2 linked regions of the Homo sapiens genome follow. The protein of the gene in region 1 purifies or fractionates together with the protein of each later gene. This does not show direct contact. Each region holds a gene or a part of one and is shown on either strand. Other genes may lie near its edges.

What was found. Proteins that work in one complex are often made in the same cells at the same time.
Region 2: the proteins of TEC (region 1) and ANKRD54 purify together in Homo sapiens (affinity purification with mass spectrometry; 2 studies listed by BioGRID and IntAct, with this or other methods). This does not show direct contact.

Annotation. Positions count from the first base shown.
Region 1 is NC_000004.12:48,266,106-48,275,289, reverse strand, and holds the start of TEC (tyrosine-protein kinase Tec), read left to right. Parts: upstream 1-5,451; 5' UTR 5,452-5,538; intron 5,539-9,184.
Region 2 is NC_000022.11:37,833,123-37,841,896, reverse strand, and holds part of ANKRD54 (ankyrin repeat domain-containing protein 54), read left to right. Parts: intron 1-1,662; coding exon 1,663-1,710; intron 1,711-3,298; coding exon 3,299-3,397; intron 3,398-7,919; coding exon of another isoform or gene 7,920-7,980; intron 7,981-8,141; coding exon 8,142-8,213; intron 8,214-8,690; coding exon 8,691-8,738; coding exon of another isoform or gene 8,739-8,774. UniProt on the Homo sapiens protein: Plays an important role in regulating intracellular signaling events associated with erythroid terminal differentiation.

The DNA.
Region 1 (9,184 bases):
GGTAACTTCAAAAAGATCTGGAGATAGAGCACTCCAGGCAGAGGAAACAGCCTGTTCAAGCCCTCAGGCCAGAGAACTCTTTTTATTTATAGGAATAATACTCAATATATCATTTTATTGTGACAGAACAACTCAGCTTTTATAAACTATCAAACTGTTGAGATAATGGACCCCTTTGAAACTCTCTGTCTCTTTTGCTAAGCACAATCTGGTTTTACTTCTACATCTTCTTTTCTGGCTCTAACATCGAAAAAATTTTCAATTACTATCAAACCAACATAAAAACATTATACAAGAAATATATGTATAAACATCATTCATGATTCAAAGATCATTCCCTTTGGCAGCTTTGAAAGGTTAAAAATGTAAACCCTGGAGTTATACTGTTTTATGTTCACATCTGGGCTTTGCCACTCAATAACTATGATTTTGGGCTATTACTTAGACCTTCTCTGCCTTTGTTTCTTCATCTGTAAAATGAAGATAACAATAGTCCACCTCACACAGCTGTGAGAATTAAATGAATTAATCTAATATGCTTAGAAAGGATGCTGGCACATCCCCTCAATAACTGTTAATCATAATTCTTACTTTTCAGTTTTCCTCCACATAATTTGTATTTAGTTGCAATTACAGGTACTCAAAGCATTGTGTTCTACTTTTAAAAATATAATCTTGTTCATAAGTTTTATTTCCTATCTCTTTTTCATTAACATAGGTAATCTTATTTTATTATTTAATTAATTAATTAACTTATTTAGAGACAGGTTCTTGCTCTGTTGCCCAGGTTGGAGTGCAGTGGCACGATCTCAGCTCACTGCAACCCTGCCCTCCTGGGCTCAAGCAATCCTCCTACCTCAGCCTCCCGAATAGCTGGGACTGCAGGTGAGCACCACCAAGCCTGGCTAATATTTGTATTTTTAGTAGAGATGGAGTTTCGCCATGTTGTCCAGGCTGGTCTTGAACTCCAGAGCTCAAAAGATCCACCCGCCTCAGCCTCCCAAAGTGCTGGGATTATAGGTGTGAGCCACCATGCCTGACCAACATAGGTAATTTTAAATGACAGCTTGACATTCCATACTGTTAATATATTTTACTTAAACATTTCCTTATTATTGGACATTTATTTTATTATTATAATGATCTTATAAATATACTTTGCATATGATGCTTTTTATTTCTTTTGAATTATTTATTTAGCATCTCTTCCCAGAAATATGATTATTGATTCTGTGTCCAATATTTGAAACTCCTTCCTTCTATGCAATAGTTCTAAAGAAGCAACTACTTTCAGCACATGATGGAAGGAGAAGCAGACATATCATAGGATCACAATGAAGTCATCTTCATGTAGGAACAGACTCTCCATGGAAGACTGATAAGGTCTGCATTATCGTCATTGTCATCATCATTTATTCATCAACAAATGTATTAATTATCTATGATGGGCCAGTTTCCTTTTCAGTAGGAAGATGGTTACAAAATAAAACCAGTGACTTGCACAAAAGAATGCAAGAAGCTGGCCGGGCATGCTGGCTCATGCCTGTAATCTCAGCACTTTGGGAGGCTGAGGCGGGCGGATCACAAGGTCAGGAGTTCAAGACCAGCCTGGTCAACATGGTAAAACCCCATCTCTACTAAAAATACAAAAATTAGCCAGGCGTGGTGGCAGGCACCTGTAATCCCAGCTACTCAGGAGGCTGAGGCAGGAGAATTGCTTGAACCCAGGAGGCAGAGGTTTCAGTTAGCCGAGATTGTGCCACTGCACTCCAGCCTGGGCAACAGAACAAGACTCTGTCTCAGAAAAAAAAAAAAAAGGCAAGAAGCTATAAATACAAATATATACACACATATATTTTTGCAAACCTTCCAGGTTGATTCTGCATGTCTTCTTCTGTACCATGTGGAATCTACATGTAAGTTAAAAAGAGGCATTTTCGTCTCTCAAGGAACTGAAATTATGTCAACCTGATACTGATCATCTAAACAAATAAACTTTATGGAAGCCATAGCGATATCTTGTAAGAAGGGAGAGTCTTGTCTCCCAAGAAGTTTATATTAATACCTTTTTCTCTGTATCTTGATTTTCTTAAAATAAAGATGGTTTTACTAATATTGTTTGAGTCTTCTTTTTGGAGGCAGGGGGAGAAATCTTTTTAAGTCAACTACTAGATTCCTTCTTTTGACTAGGGACGAATGTAAAAGTTTGAATTATACAGGCCCAAATGTAGTATTCTGTTTTCACCTAAAAAATAAAAATTAAAGAAAGACTAAATCTTTTTTATTAATCCCACCACATTCTGAGTTCAGTTTTTACACCTTTTCCTTAATGTAGTTGAAGTTCCCTAATGGCCTCTTTTTTTTGTCTGTCTCTCTGTCTCTTTCTCAACACCTTGCTGAAAAAAATTGCCATTGTTCTCTATTATGTGATCTATGGATGGTATACCTGTGGCAATTGCCTACTTAAACTGTATGATTGATAGTGTAACAAATGTCTTATTTAGAAAACTATAACTTTATGAAAATTACCCCAACTATTAAGAATTATGTTGGATCTAGGTGTTTTATTTACAGATCTGTTCTCTTTGGCTTTTCTGAGAGTTAGTAGGGACAATACAGACACTTTTCTCTCTTTTAATTTAAACTTTATGAAGAAATTATGTAAGGGTCTGGGTTTTCTGCCTTTTCAAACTTCATAAACATTGAGATCCTCATTACCATTGTCAAGAATATGAGCTACCATCACCTACCAAGAACAGGCAAGGCGAATTGGAAACTGGTTCTTCTAACCATCATAATATCAGTTAATTCCTTAAGGCAGTAGCTCTTACCTTTTTGGGATCAGTCAATATGATAAAAGTTCTAAGTCCTCTCACTTAAAAATATACGTACATAAGCATTTTTCTTGGGAGAAAATTAACTGTATTACTATAATTATATATCTATAACTCTCTTTCCTGCCCCCCAACACAGTTTTTTTGCATAGAGTTTCAGATGGTTTATGGTCCTGTCCCCTCAAAGTACATCTGTGCTAGGGGAAATTACGTTAACTAGCCAAAACAAGTACCTGAATGGGACAAGAGGCAGGAGAGACTCGGGTAGGGAGGAGAGAGTAGATCATAAAAAAGAAATTTTACTAGATTCATTCAAAGTACTAGTCATTATACTCAAAGTCCTCACTGGAGAGAGGATTTGTAATCAGAAGGCCTTGGTCCAAATCTGTGCCCTCTTCCCATCTCCCCTTTTCCTAGATAGTTGTCTGACTTTTGGAAAGTCATTGAAACCTCTCTGACCCTCAGTTGTTGTTGCTGTTATTGTTTTCCCTGTTAAATCAGGGTTCCCCAACCCGCAGGCTGTGGACCAGTACCGGTCTGAGGTCTGTTAGGAACCTGGCCGCATAGCAGGAGGTAAGCGGTTGAGCGGTGGGCAAGGGAGCAAAGCTTCATCTGTATTTACAGCCACTCCCCATTGCCTGCATTACGGCTGAGCTCCGCCTCCTGTCAGATCAGCCTTGGCCTTAGATTCTCTCAGGAGTGCAAACCCTAGTGTGAACTGTGCATTCGAGGGATCTAGGTGGTGTACGCGTTACGAGAATCTAATGCCTGATGATCTGAGGTGGAACAGTTTCATCCTCAAACCATCTCTTCCTGACACCTGTCCATGGAAAAATTATCTTCCATAAAACCAGTCCCTGGTGCCAAAAAGGTTGGGGACCACTGTATTAAATGGAATCTTGTTAGACTTCTCAGGGTTATTACAGTGATCAAAGGAGAAATGATATAGGAAGGCACTACTTTTAAGTCCCAAGCAAGCATGAGGTGTGATAAGTATCAAAGCACTTGCCATTCCCTTAGCTTCAGCCTTGGGTTGGCCGTCTGTCCTATCATTCAGGTCTCAGCTCCACTGTTACCCCAGAGAAGCCTCCAGTAACATCATATCTAAAGTAGCCTCCCTCTCCCTTTCACTCTCAATTCCATCACCCTGCTTTATTTTAGTCAAGACACCTCACTTACGAAGTGGTTTAATTTTTTGCTTGCCTGTTGATCATGTGAGACAAGTAACAAACGTTAAGAAGCCATGCTTGCTCATTTCTGCTTGTCAGCATAATTTCACACAGCCCCTGACTCTGTGACCACCTGCAGCTGGCGGAAAGATGCTTTGAAGACAAAACGAGATAGAACACAGGATCCCCCACGTCTCTTGCCTGAGCCCTTGCCTTTTACTGCACCTAAGATAAAGTCTGATGAGGTTAGTGATTATGCTTCTGTAATCTATAAACAGATGTACTCTTAAGCCCAAACTGTGATGTGCTTTTACACATACTGAATCTTCACCAACTGTTTCTAAATTGAGAAGGGAAGTTCTGTGTTGGAGGGATCTGCTTGAATCTCTCTAAAAGACTCCTCCAGGGCTGTAGGCCTCCATCTCTAGTCCTCAGTAAGACTTCTGAATAAAACTAACTTTCATTCTTTAACAGCTTGATTTTTAAATTTTAGTCGACAATCACTTATTGTCTTTCTCCTACAGTAGAATAAAAGTTTCCTAATGGCAGAGTCCTTGCCTCATCTTCCCCAGGCATGGGAACAGTTCCTGGTATAGGATGCACACAGATTTTGCTGATTCAGGATAGCCGTGAATAACAGTGGAGACTCCAGAGGAGGAAGACCTGGATTTGAAGCCCAGCTTCTCAACCCAGCTTCTCAATTTACTAGTTGGGTGACATTAGGCAAGTTATTTAGCTTCTCTCTGCCTCACTTGCACCGTATGTGAAAAGGGGGATTCTGATAATATACGCTTCAGAGAACTTTTAGTACATGTGAAGTACCTAGAACAGTGCCTGGCACACAGTTAAGTCTTACATGTGTTTTCTACTCTTCAGTGAGTTTAATGTTAACACATTAATAGTGCACGTGACCCTCTAAGTGTATCAGATATGCACTGCTCCCTCGGGTTTCACAGGAAAACCACTTACTCTTTTGGTAAAACAGGCTGCATGGCTCCACTGCTCCGCGTCACCCGCCTGGCCTCCCACCGCTTAGCGGAAGGGGAGGTGCGGTTCCTAATTCCGACAGGCACGTAGTCTTCCACAAGTGGCACTACTCGGGGCTCTCCTGGCTAGGGGCGTTCGAGCCACTAGGGGCGGGTCTCCTGGGATGGGAAGACTGGGGCTAGGGAGGTTCAACGCCGCCCCCGGAAACCTAAGGGACGCTCCCTGAAACTCACCGGGACGCGCTTCCGACCCATTCCGGTCACTTGCCTTGAAATCGCCGCAGGGCTGCGCAAACCTGCCACCCAGGGCCCAAGCGACCGGGGCGGGGCGATCGAGGACTGGGCGGGCCTGCAGGATCAGAGGCGGGGTAGGGCGTCCACGGGGCCAGCAATCGGGGCGGGGCGGGGTGATTGGGGGCGGGACGGGGAGATCAGAGGGCGGGGCGGGGCGCTTTGCTCTGGACTCTGGGGCGCTAGGCTCCGGACTCCGCGGCGCAGACTGCACCTCGCAGTCTCCCCAGGTCCGCCCAGCAGCCGCGCTTCAGCCAGGTAAGGGCGCCGCGGGCGGGCTGGGGCGGCCCCGGGAGTGCGATACTCCGGGCGAGGACGGGTGGGGAGGGGGATGAGCGCGGCAAGAGGCGGCTTCCACACGCCCCTCGAGGAACGGGGAAGGATTTTCTCCCCTCCGTGCCGCAGTGAGCGCGGGTGCGCCGTCTCTGGGTCCCCTCTTCGGTCCGGGAAGGAGGGACAGGTGCGCGCAGTGGCGCAGCCTCGCCTTCCTGCCGGCAGTAGATTCTCCACTTCTCCAACTCCCGCACTGACCTCTCCTAAGGAACACCCGCCCCTTTTTCTTGAAGTTCCAGGCCTGAGGCCGCCCTGCGGCAAGTTCAGCGTTGGGGTCACGTCCCAGCGGCGAGCAGGGCTGATGCCTCCTTTCGGGTTGGGCGGCGGCGCGATCTTGATTGAAATTTGGCAGTGTCGAGATAGATATACCTAATGTAAATGACAAGTTAATGGGTGCAGCACACCAACATGGCACATGTATACATATGTAACAAACCTGCACGTTGTGCACATGTATCCTAGAACTTAAAGTATTAAAAAAAAAATTTGGCAGTATCGGCCAAGATGTTCCGCAGTTGCACGTGACTCACCCAGTGAAGTTCACGTTCTCTTCCCCACCCCCCCAATACCCCGCCCACCTCGCCCCGGGAAGTTGTGTTTGAATATTGAAAACAGGTGCCCGGCCAATGTATGTACTTCTTGGAAAAACTAGGGCCTTGACCTGGGAGTGTACACTTTCCTAATTTTCTTTAATCCTAAATTTCTTGTGGATTTTATTTTATTTTATTTTTCCCGTGGACGTGTAACATGGTGGTGTGTACCAGGTTTGGAAACAATCTCATCCATTGCTATTCTTTGGAAACTGGAATATTTGATTCGAAAGATTGATCTTAATGTTAACTTGGAACAACAGGATGGCTGGTGGCTAAGTGGGTTTGAAGATTATCCAAAATAGTTATAAGTTTTGCGCGTATTCCTTGTATTTTTCCAGTGAATGCTCATTTTCCTCTTGGGAAATTCTGAGAATTTACTCACTTCTAGATTATTCTCTGCTAAAGAGCTGGGAAGAAACAAACCAGCGGATCTCCCAAATAAAGTTTGGGATTTAACAGTTTAGGTCGTGACACTGGTAGCTGCTTACTCTGCAATAATCACCTGGAGTAAGGGATATTAAGATTTATTTCTAAGGGGAAAATAGAAGTATGGGTAACTTTCACATTATGTATTTGAAAGTATTTTTTAGTTTAGTTACATTTTCAATGTTTACGGAAGACTTACACTTTCCCCATACTCCAGTTAATCTGATCCATATATTACACTCTTGCCAACGCAGATGCTTACTGTGGTGTGTTTATGTTAATGATCTTGACTCTTCTCACAAGGGTGTGTACATTCTGGTCTGTGGAACTGTATAGGCCAAGTGTAAACTCATGCAGTCAGTGCTTTACTCTAGTTGGCAATACCTTTGCCCCACATAGGTCCAACTAGAATTTTCACATCTTCCCAACTAGGAAAGGATATAGAATATTAATGTATGCTCTAGCATTTTCAACCTACTTTATTCTTTATCAAGATAATCATGTTTTCTCAGCAGCTAGTTACTCAAGGGCAGCAGCTATGTTTTACCAAACCGTGGAAAATAAAGCTGAGATAATGGTAACCTTTGCTTCCTTAAGTTGACCCTTGATAGGGAGGTTGGAAGGGTTGTGAGCAGTGTCTGGCCTACTTTTACGCTTGGGGAAGAATTACTGGCCTCTCTGCCTTTCTCCGGGTATCCAGAGTGCTGGGAGACAGGGCCTTGGGCCTCCAGCCACACCTCTGCCTACAGGTTCCTCCAGGTTGACCAGGTTGGTGCCTCTCCTCCCTGCCCCAGCTGTTCCAGCTCCTTAGCTTCCACCCCACCCCTCCCAGATTCTTACCCCTAGACAAATCACCATGTTGTTCAGGGCAGGGGTACTTGGTCTGCAGAGTCAGCATGAGTGTTGATCTTCAGCATGGTGCTGGTTCCCCGTGGATGCTCCTTGGATGTCTGCTGCTTCAGAGCCTTTATTATGCTCCCTTCTTGTCCAGTCTACAGCAGGCAAAGTGGAGTTACTGAAGTCAAACCCAGATCAACAGTCTTGGGGGCCAGCTGCCTTGGTTGGACTAATTACGATCATAAATTGGGCATTCAAGTCTGTTGGAAAAAAGTGAAATTGGCTCATGGTCACTGGCAATTGTAAAATTATCCTGTACGATGTGGTTATGCTATTATAAAAGGTTTGTGGAAAAATAAGAAACAACCCAGAAGGAAGGGGCCTAGTAGTTGCCTCCACCTCCAAACACGCCTGTGCTTGGGCTTGCCTTATTGTCACTACCCCAGCTCAACCAATTCTTCTGGGATTGGATTGTAACAATTAATTTCCCCACCATGTTTGACTGCTCAGAGCTCAGATGACCGCAGCTACTGTAGTATAGATGTAGAGAATTACATACTCTTTTGTTTAGAGAAACAAGGATGGGCTTTTTCAAAACAGATTGTTATTAGGGAAACAAAGAAAAAGCAAACAAATGTAAAAATGTGTGGGCACAGAAGCCAAAGTTTGTTTTGTTATGGTTTATAGTTTTAAACTTTTATCCAAGTTACATTTCTCCCTTTCCAGAAACAACCACTTGTAATTCTTTGCCATTTGTGGCTTATAGTTGATACTTCTTGATTTTTCAATTTTAAGCATTATCTGTTGACTTCCCACTGTGGAAGATGATGAGTTGGCTCTCTTTTTCCCTCCAACCCCCAACGCAAGTACAGCTTCCCTATTTTCCCATTCTTGCAGTCGTTAAAACAGAATATTGAATAATGGTTAGATCAAAATTCACAGCTAAGCCAAGCATAACTTTTTTTTCGTTTTTTTTTTTTTTGAGACAGAGTTTTGCTCTTGTTGCCCAGGCTGGAATGCAATGGCACGATCTTGGCTCACCACAACCTCTGCCTCCCGGGTTCAAGCGATTCTCCTGCCTCGGCTTCCTGAGTAGTTGGGATTACAGGCATGTGCCACCACGCCTAGCTAATTTTTGTATTTCTAGTAGAGATGGGGTTTCTCCATGTTAATCAGGCTGGTCTCAAACTCGTGACCTCAGGTGATCTACTTGCCTTGGGCTCCCAAAGTGCTGGGATTACAGGCGTGACCAAACATAACTTTTTATTTTCCTTGGAGTTAATAATGGATTTGTTTGTTCATTTTATTTATTTTGTGCTCTTCATTGATTAAACCCACAGCTCTTGGCCAGTTTTCCAAATTCTCCCTCAATTGACCAGGTATTTTGTCAATTTCGTTTTCCTCAAGAAGCTGTTCCTGAGCCTACTGGCTTGCTATAATCCAGACTGGGTGCCTTTGGTACATTGGCACACTTGTCACCCCAAGGGTTCCCTTTGTCATCATTCTGGAGATTCTCATCATTTGTCTCTTGTGTTGGATCTCCTGGTACTTGTAGCACATGTCTTCCTCAGTCTTGGTTGACTCCCTTCTTTTGGTAGAGCCCATCCTAAAGGAGCTTCCTGGAATAGGATGCCTAGAGGTCTACTTTTCTGAGACTGTAGATGCCTGAAAATGTGTTTTCAACTGACAATTGATAGTTTGACTGAGTGTAGATT
Region 2 (8,774 bases), on another chromosome or scaffold:
ATTTATTTATTTATTTATTTATTTATTTATTTATTTATTTATTTATTTTGAGACAGAGTCTTGCTCTATTGCCCAGGCTGGAGTGCAGTGGCGCGATCTTGGCTCACTGCAACCTCCGGCTCTCAAGTTCAAGTGATTCTCCTGCCTTAGCCTCCTGAGTAGTTGGGATAACAGGCATGCACCACCATGCCTGGCTAATTTTTGTATTTTTAGTAGAGAAGGGATTTCACCTTATTGGCCAGGCTGGTCTCAAACTCCTGACCTCGTGATCCACCCACCTTGGCCTCTCAAAGTGTTGGGATTACAGGCGTGAGCCACTGTGCCCGGCCTATGTTTTTTGTGTGTGTGTGTGTGTGTGTGTGTGTTTGTGTGAGACAGAGTCTCACTCTGTTGCCCGAGCTGGAGTACAGTGGCACAGTCTTGGCTCACTGCAACCTCTGCCTCCTGGGCTTAAGCGATTCTCCTGCCTGAGCCTCCCAAGTAGCTGGGATTGTAGGCGTGCACCCCCATGCCCAACTAATTTTTTGTATTTTAGTATAGACAAGGTTTCACCATGTTGCCCAGGGTGGTTTCAAACTCCAGAGCACAGGCAATCTGCCCACCTCAGCTTTCCAACGTTCTGGGATTACAGGCGTGAGTCACCACGTATGGCTAGTTTTGTATTTTTAGTAGAGATGGGGTTTCAGCATGTTGGCCAGGCTGGTCTTGAACTCCTGGCCTCAAGTGATCCACCTGCCTTGGCCTCCCAAAGTACCGGGATTATAGGCATGAGCCACTGCGCCCAGCCATTGTGGCTTTTTTTTTTTTTTTTTTTCCTGAGACAGTCTCACTTTGTTGCCCAGGCTGGAATGCAGTGGCGTGATCTCATCTCACTGTAGCCTCCGCCTTCCGGCTTCAACCCATTCTCCTACCTCGGCCTCCTAAGTAGCTGGTGTTACACGTGCACACCACCACACCCAGCTAGATGGCTGGGTTTTTTTTGTTGGTTTTTGTTGTTTTTGTTTTTTTCTGAGACAGCGTCTCACTCTGTCACCCAGGCTGGAGTGCAGTGGCGCGATTTTGGCTTACTGCAACCTCCATGTCCTGGGTTCAAGTGATTCTCCTACCTCAGCCTCCAGAGTAGCTGGGATTACAGGCATGTGCACCACACCCGGCTAATTTTTTTGTATTTTTAGTAGAGATGGGGTTTCACCATGTTGTCCAGGCTGGTTTTGAACTCCTGGCCTCAAGTGATCCACCTGCCTCGGCCTCCCAAAGTGCTGGGATTACAGACGTGAGCCATCATGCCCAGCCAATGGCTGTGTTTTTTTTGTGTGTGTTTGTTTGTTTGTTTGTTTTGAGACGGAGTCTCACTCTGTCACCCAGGCTGGAGTGCAGTGGCGCGATCTCTGCTCACTGCAAGCTCCACCTCCCAGGTTCACGCCATTCACCCGCCTCAGCCTCCCGAGTAGCTGGGACTACAGGCACCTGCCACCACGCCCGGCTAATTTTTTTGTATTTTTAGTAGAGATGGGGTTTCACCATGTTAGCCAGGATGGTCTCGATCTCCTGACCTTGTGATCTGCCTGCCTTGGCCTCCCAGAGTGCTGGGATTATAGGCATGAGCCACCGCACCCAGCCATGGCTGTTTTTTTAAACTGGCATCCGTTACTCTCTTTACAGCTCTGAAGAGACTGAGGGACTCGGCCAATGCCAATGATGTGGAAACAGGTGAGTGTGCACAGTAGGTCCAGCTACAGGGTCCCATGGGCTGGTTGGGGAAGGAAAAGGCCAGGTAATCAATATGTGGGAAGGCAGTCTGCAAACTCACGCCCTTGGAGCAGGCTCACTGTATTTATTGTCTGACTGTGCAGTCATCTTGCTGAAGGTAAGTCTGGCTTAGACACTCACTCTCCCCATGCTCCCCTGTCACTTTGAACTTCCTGATGTCATAGCATTTACCACCCTGTGGACTCCTTGATGGTGGAGACCATGTATACTTTTGTATCCCTGGCAGCCAGCACAGTCTTCTGCAAAGAGTAGGCACTAACTTTGGAACTTGTGGTTAATGGGAGTGAATACTCAACTTAGCTGCCACGGCCAGGTGAGGTGGCTCATGCCTGTAATCCCAGCACTTTGGGAGGCTAAGGCAAGAGGATCACTTGGGCTCAGGAGTTTGAGACCAGCCTGGACAACATAGGGAGACCTCGTCTCTACAAAAAGTAAATGTTAGCTGGGCGCGGTGGCTCACGCCTGTAATCCCAGCACTTTGGGAGGCCGAGCTGGGCAGATCACGAGGTTAGGAGATCGAGACCATCCTGGCTAACACTGTGAAACCCCATCTCTACTGAAAATACAAAAAATTAGCCGGACGTGGTGGTGGGCGCCTGTAGTGCCAGCTACTTGGGAGGCTGCGGCAGGAGAATGGTGTGAACCTGGGAGACAGAGCTTGCAGTGAGCGGAGATGACGCCACTGCACTCTAGCCTGCGCGACAGAGCGAAATTCTGTCTCAAATAAATAAATAACATAAGAAAAAAATTTTTTAAAAATGTTGTGGAAATTAGAGAAATATATAAGAAAAAATCCATGTCCGCAAAGGAACTAATCTGTTAATATTTTGATGAATATCCTTCAAGGCTTCTTTCCTATACACTGGAATTTTCTTTATGGGCTGGCTTGCAAACTGCTATATACACATGCTGTAGCCTGCATAATTTTTTGTGTATCATAAACATTTTTTCGGGCCGGGTGTGGTGGCTCACGCCTGTAATCCCAGCACTTTGGGAGGCTGAAGTGGGCGGATCACCTAAGGTCAGGAGGTCGAGACCAGCCTGACCAATATGGTGAAACCCCGTCTCTACTAAAAATACAAAAATTAGCTGGGGGCTACTTGGGAGGCCCCAAGTAGCTGGGGGATTGCTGCCTGCTGGGAGCATAGCATAGGCCAATAGCTTGGGCAGCTGTTTCCAGCCAGAATGGATGTGTATCCAAGCCGAGGTCACGGGAGGGGGACCACTGTCTATGCTAGGGATTCCTGTGACCCTAAAATTTCTGACCCTGAGGGCCTTGAACCTCCTACGATGTTCTATCACTAGACGTGTAGTTTGAGCACTCAGAATCCATGGCCTTCAGTTGTGCCCTCAGAAGAACAAGTTGCTTGTTCCCATAGGACCAGCATCTAGGAAGGGCTGCTTTCCTATGCATTGTCGATGTCTTGTCTAGAGGCACCCCTGAGCCTCCCTCTCCATCGCTCGGGTCTGCAGCTTAGCTAACATCGCCGCTTTCTCCCCCTTCCTCCCTCTGTCTTGGTGGTGTCAGTGCAGCAGCTGCTGGAAGATGGCGCGGATCCCTGTGCAGCTGATGACAAGGGCCGCACAGCTCTACACTTTGCCTCATGCAATGGCAATGACCAGATTGGTGAGTCCTGGGGAGGGAGGAGGGAGTAGGGCTAGGCAAGTAGTGTCTCTGCACAGGCCTTGGGGGAGGCGCTGCTGTCTGCACAGCCTTGGGATGCCCAGTTGTTCTGGATATAAGGAAGACTTGGCACTGCAGTGCCCTGCCCTTCTCCCTCTGTTAGCCTGTGGAACTGGCAATGTTAGACTGGGGCAGGGTAAACCTGGGGGAGATAATATGATTGACTGAGGATGAAGGGATATCTCCAACTAAGAGACCACTGGAGAGTGCAGGGCCCAGGCCTTCAAGACTTTCAGGTAACATTTACTCAGTGCCAACCACAGCAGCAGGACAGCTTTTCTCTTTTTATAGGAGTCTTTTTTTTTTTTGAGATGGAGTCTCGCTCTGTCGCCCAGGCTGGAGTGCAGTGGTGCCATCTCGGTTCACTGTAAGCTCTGCCTCCCGGGTTCACGCCATTCTCCTGCCTCAGCCTCCCAAGTAGCTGGGACTACAGGCACCCGCCACCATGCCTGGCTAATTTTTTATATGTTTTTAGTAGAGACGGGGTTTCACTGTATTAGCCAGTATGGTCTCGATCTCCTGACCTCGTGATCCACCCGCCTCGGCTTCCCAAAGTGCTGGGATTACAGGCATGAGAGACTGCACCCGGCCACACCGGTTAATTTTTTTGTATTTTTTAGTAGAGATGGGGTTTCACCATGTTGGCCAGGCTGGTCTTGAACTCCTGACCTCGTGATCCACCTGCCTTGGCCTCCCAAAGTGCTGGGATTACAGGCGTGAGCCACTGCACCAGCCTTGCATACTTTTACTCAAAGTTATCTCCATGAGATTCACCCATGAATACTGCCTATATCAGTACAGTCTTCCCTCAGTGTTCTTGGGATTGGTTCCAGGACCCCACTCAGATACCAAACTCCATGGATGCTCAAGTCCTTTGAAGTTGGCCCTCCATATCCTCGGGTTCTGAGTCCAGGGTTCATTGAATCTGTGGACACAGTATTCACAGTTAGGGAGGGTGGACTGTAGTTAGTACTTTCTTATGCTGGTTTGTATTTCATTGTGATATACCCCATTTATCCATTCTACTATTGACGGACATTTGTGGTGTTTCCAGGTTTTAGCTTTATGAATGAAGTGTTGTGAACATTCTTGTATATGTGATTTGTGGCTGTAAACACTCATCTATCCTCTATAAACCTAGGAATGGCATTGTTGGGTCACTAGGGTACACATGTATTTAGCTTTAGTAGGTACTACTAAACCTTTTCCCAAAAGGGATGTACTGACACACACTCCCACTCCCCACCAGCAGTGTAAGAGTTCCACCTTTCCCTACGTCCCTGCCAGTGCTTGCTGTTGTCTCTCTTTAATCTTAACCCTTTTGGTGTCTCATAGTGGTTTAATTTGCATTTCTCTGATGGCCAGTAACGTTGAGCACCTCTTCATGTGTTTATTGGCCTTTTTTTTTTTTTTTTGAGACGGAGTCTTGCCTGTCGCCCAGGCTGGAGTGCAATGGCGTGATCTCGGCTCATTGCAACCTCCACCTCCTGGGTTTGAGTAATTCTCCTGCTTCAGCCTCCCGGGTAGCTGGGATTATAGGCACGCATCATCACACCCAGTTAATTTTTGTATTTTTAGTAGAGACAGGGTTTCACCATGTTGGCCAGGCTAGTCACAAACTCCTGACCTCAGGAGATCCACCTGTCTCGGCCTCCCAAAGTGCTGGGATTACAGGTGTGAGCCACCATGCCCGGGCCATTTTTTTTTTTAAACTTTAAGTTCTGGGATGCATGTGCAGAACGTGCAGGTTCGTTACATAGGTACACCTGTGCCGTGGTGGTTTTCTGTACCCATCAACCCGTCATCTAGGTTTTAAGCCCCTCATGCATTAGGTATTTGTCCTAATGCTCTCCCTCCCCTTGGCCCCCACCCCCCGACAGGCCCTGGTATGTGATGTTCCCCTCCCTGTGTCCAATTATTGACCATTTTTACATCCTCTTTTATGAACTATATGTTCAAATCTTTTGTCCTTTTTTTTTTTTTTTTTTTTTTTTTGAGACAGAGTTTCACTCTTTGTTGCCCAGGCTGGAGTGCAATGGCGTGATCTCGGCTAACCACAACCTCTGCCTCCCGGGTTAAAGTGATTCTCCTGCCTCATCCTCCCAAGTAGCTGGGATTACAGGCATGCGCCACTACGCCCGGCTAATTTTGTATTTTTAGTGGAGACCGGGTTTCTCCATGTTGGTCAGGCTGGTCTCGAACTCCTGACCTCAGGTGATCCACCCGCCTCGGCCTCCCATAGCGCTGGGATTACAGGCGTGAGCCACCGCACCTGGCCTCTTTTGTCCATTTTTTTAAAAACAAGTTTTGCCTGGGCGCGGTATCTCACGCCTGTAATCCCAGCACTTTGGGAGGCCGAGGCGGGTGGATCATGAGGTCAGGAGATCGAGACCATCCTGGCTAACACGGTGAAACCCCATCTCTACTAAATATACAAAAACTTAGCCGGGTGTGGTGGCGGGTGCCTGTAGTTCCAGCTACTCGCTGAGGCAGGAGAATGGTGTGAAGCCGGGAGGCGGAGCTTACAGTGAGCCGAGATCGCGTGACTGCACTCCAGACTGGGAGAGAAAGCAAGACTCTGTCTCAAAAACAAACAAACAAACAAAAAAAACTAGTTTTCTGTCTTTTTCTTTTTTTGAGACAAAGTCTCACTCTGTCATCCAGGCTTACGTGCAGTGGCCTGATCACTGCCCACTGCAGCCTCAATCTCCTAGGCTCAAGCAATCCTCCTGCCTCAGCCTCCCAAGTAGCTGGGACGACAGGTGCACACCACCAAGCCCAGCTAATTTTAAAACATCTTGTAGAGACGTGGTCCTGCTATGTTACCCAGCTGTTCTCTAACTCTTGGGCTCAGGCGATCCTGTCACCTTGGCCTCCCAAAGTATTGGGATTACAAGCATGAGCCACTGCGCCTGGCCTTTTTCTTATTGATTTGTAAGAATTCTTTGTATATTCTGGTTAGAAATCATTTATCAAATATAAATGACTTGATTTTCTGAGCTTGCTGTTTCATTTTCTGAGTGGTATACTTTGATGAACACAAGTTCCTAATTTTATTTTTATTTATTTATTTATTTATTTGAGACAGAGTCTCACTCTGTTGCCTAGGCTGGAGTGCAGTGGTGTGATCTTGGCTCACTGCAAGCTCTGCTCCCCAGGTTCAAGCTATTCTCCCACCTCAGCCTCCTGAGTAGCTGGGATTACAGATGCGTGTCACCACACCCACCTAATTTTTTATTTTTAGTAGAGATGGGATTTCACCATGTTGGTCAGGCTGGTCTCGAACTCCTGACCTCCGATGATCCACCCGCCTTGGCCTCCCAAAGTGCTGGGATTACAGGCGTGAGCTCCTGTGCCCTGGCCTATTTTATTTTTTATTTTTTGGAGACAGAGTCTCGCTCTGTCACCCAGGCTGGAGTTCAGTGGCATGATCTTGGCTCCCTGGAACCTCCACCTCCTAGGTTCCAGCAATTCTCCTGCCTCAGCCTCCCAAGTAGCTGAGACTACAGGGGTATGCCACCACACCCAGCTAATTTTTGTGTTTTTAGTACAGACAGTTTCAACATGTTGAACAGCCTGGTCTTGAACTCCTGACCTCAGATGATCTGGCTGCCTTGGCCTCCCAAAGTGCTGGGATTACAGGCATGAGCCACCGTGCCCAGCCATGTTCTTAATTTTAATGAATCCAATTTATCAATATTTCTTTCCTTTCTCTTTTTTTTTTTTTTTTTTTTTTTTTTTTTTTGAGACAGGGTCTGTCTCTGTTGCCTAGGCTGGAGTGCACTGGCACCATCTCGGCTGACTGCAACCTCGACCTTCTGGGCTCAAGCCGCCCTGCCACCTCAGCCTCTCAAGTAGCTGGGACTACAAGTCTGCCATCACTATGCCCAGCTAATTTTTGTGTTTTTAGTATAGAGAAAGGGTTTCTCCATGTTGCCCAGGCTGGTCTTGAACTCCTGAGCTCAAATGATCCACCTGCCTCGGCATCCCAAAGTGCTGGGATTAACAGGCCTGAGCTCCCATGCCTGGCCTTTTCTTTCCTATGGTTAGTATTTTTGTGACCTATTTAAGAAATCTTTGCCTGCCCAAGATGTTCATGTTCTTCTGGAAGCCTGTTTTAGCATTCACACTTATGTCTATGGTCCCTCTTGAATTAGTTTTTGTACATGGTGTGAGGCTCAGCCTGACCTCCCTGTATGATGTCTGGGATCCAGGCTACCTGCCTATGCATCCTTCTGGGTATTGGCAGACCCTGGTGATAATACAGCACACCCCTGAGGTGATCCCAAGACTGCCAGGAGGGAGAGGTTATCCATGGAGCTCAGCATCATTTATTGACTTAATTCCTACCATGGTGCTTGGCTGTGGGAGAAGCAGAAAATGCCCTGGACAGCCTTCACCAGGAGCAGCTGCTATTGGAAGAACTTTACTTAACCCTTCAAATCTCATTCCTACACCTGCATAGGCCAAGAGGCCCTCCCCAAATCCTCAGTTCCTGGCCCTCAGGGCTTTGCCCATGAACTCTGGTAAGTAAGTGAGTGAGTGAGTGAATGAATGAAGTAACACAGCCATCCATGCTTGCATTCCGTGTCCCCTACTCTGAGCCAGCCTCTCTAGCTAGGTTAGGGGTTCAGGGTGCAGGCAATGGAAGCCTCCGACAACTCCTCTTGGGTTTGCCTGTTTCCAGTGCAGCTGCTCCTGGACCATGGTGCTGATCCTAACCAGCGAGATGGGCTGGGGAACACGCCACTGCACCTGGGTAAGCATGTCAGAAGTCACTAAGACAACTCATTTGCAGCAAAGAAAGGCTCTTTAGATGAAGAGGGTGGGGCCCGGCATGCTCCTGGCAGAAACTGTGAGTGTCAGGGAAGATCCTAGGCCTGCACTCCCAGGGCTGCACTGCCCAGCAGCCTGTGTCCCATGGGCCTTCCAATCATTTAGCAGTTGGCTGTGCCCTCGGCAGAGCCAATTTAGCAACCTAGGCTAGCCCAGCAGCACTCAGCACTGTGGCTCACACTGAGGCAGATCCTATCTCCAGGCCTCAGTTTCCTCTGCTGTACAGGGAGGGAGTTGAACTTGACTTCTGAGTCCTACCTAGCTGTGCCTTGGCGATACCTTCTCAGTAGGCATAACTTGGCACAGGCGTCTGGGAGACACAGCCCTGCTCCCTCCAGTGGCCACGCAGAGCCAGGCTCTGGTGGTCCTGGATTCTTAAGTCTCTGTTGTTCTTCCTCAGCGGCCTGCACCAACCACGTTCCTGTCATCACCACACTGCTACGAGGAGGTATGTGGTTTCTTCCCCTCTCTGTCCTCTTTCTCC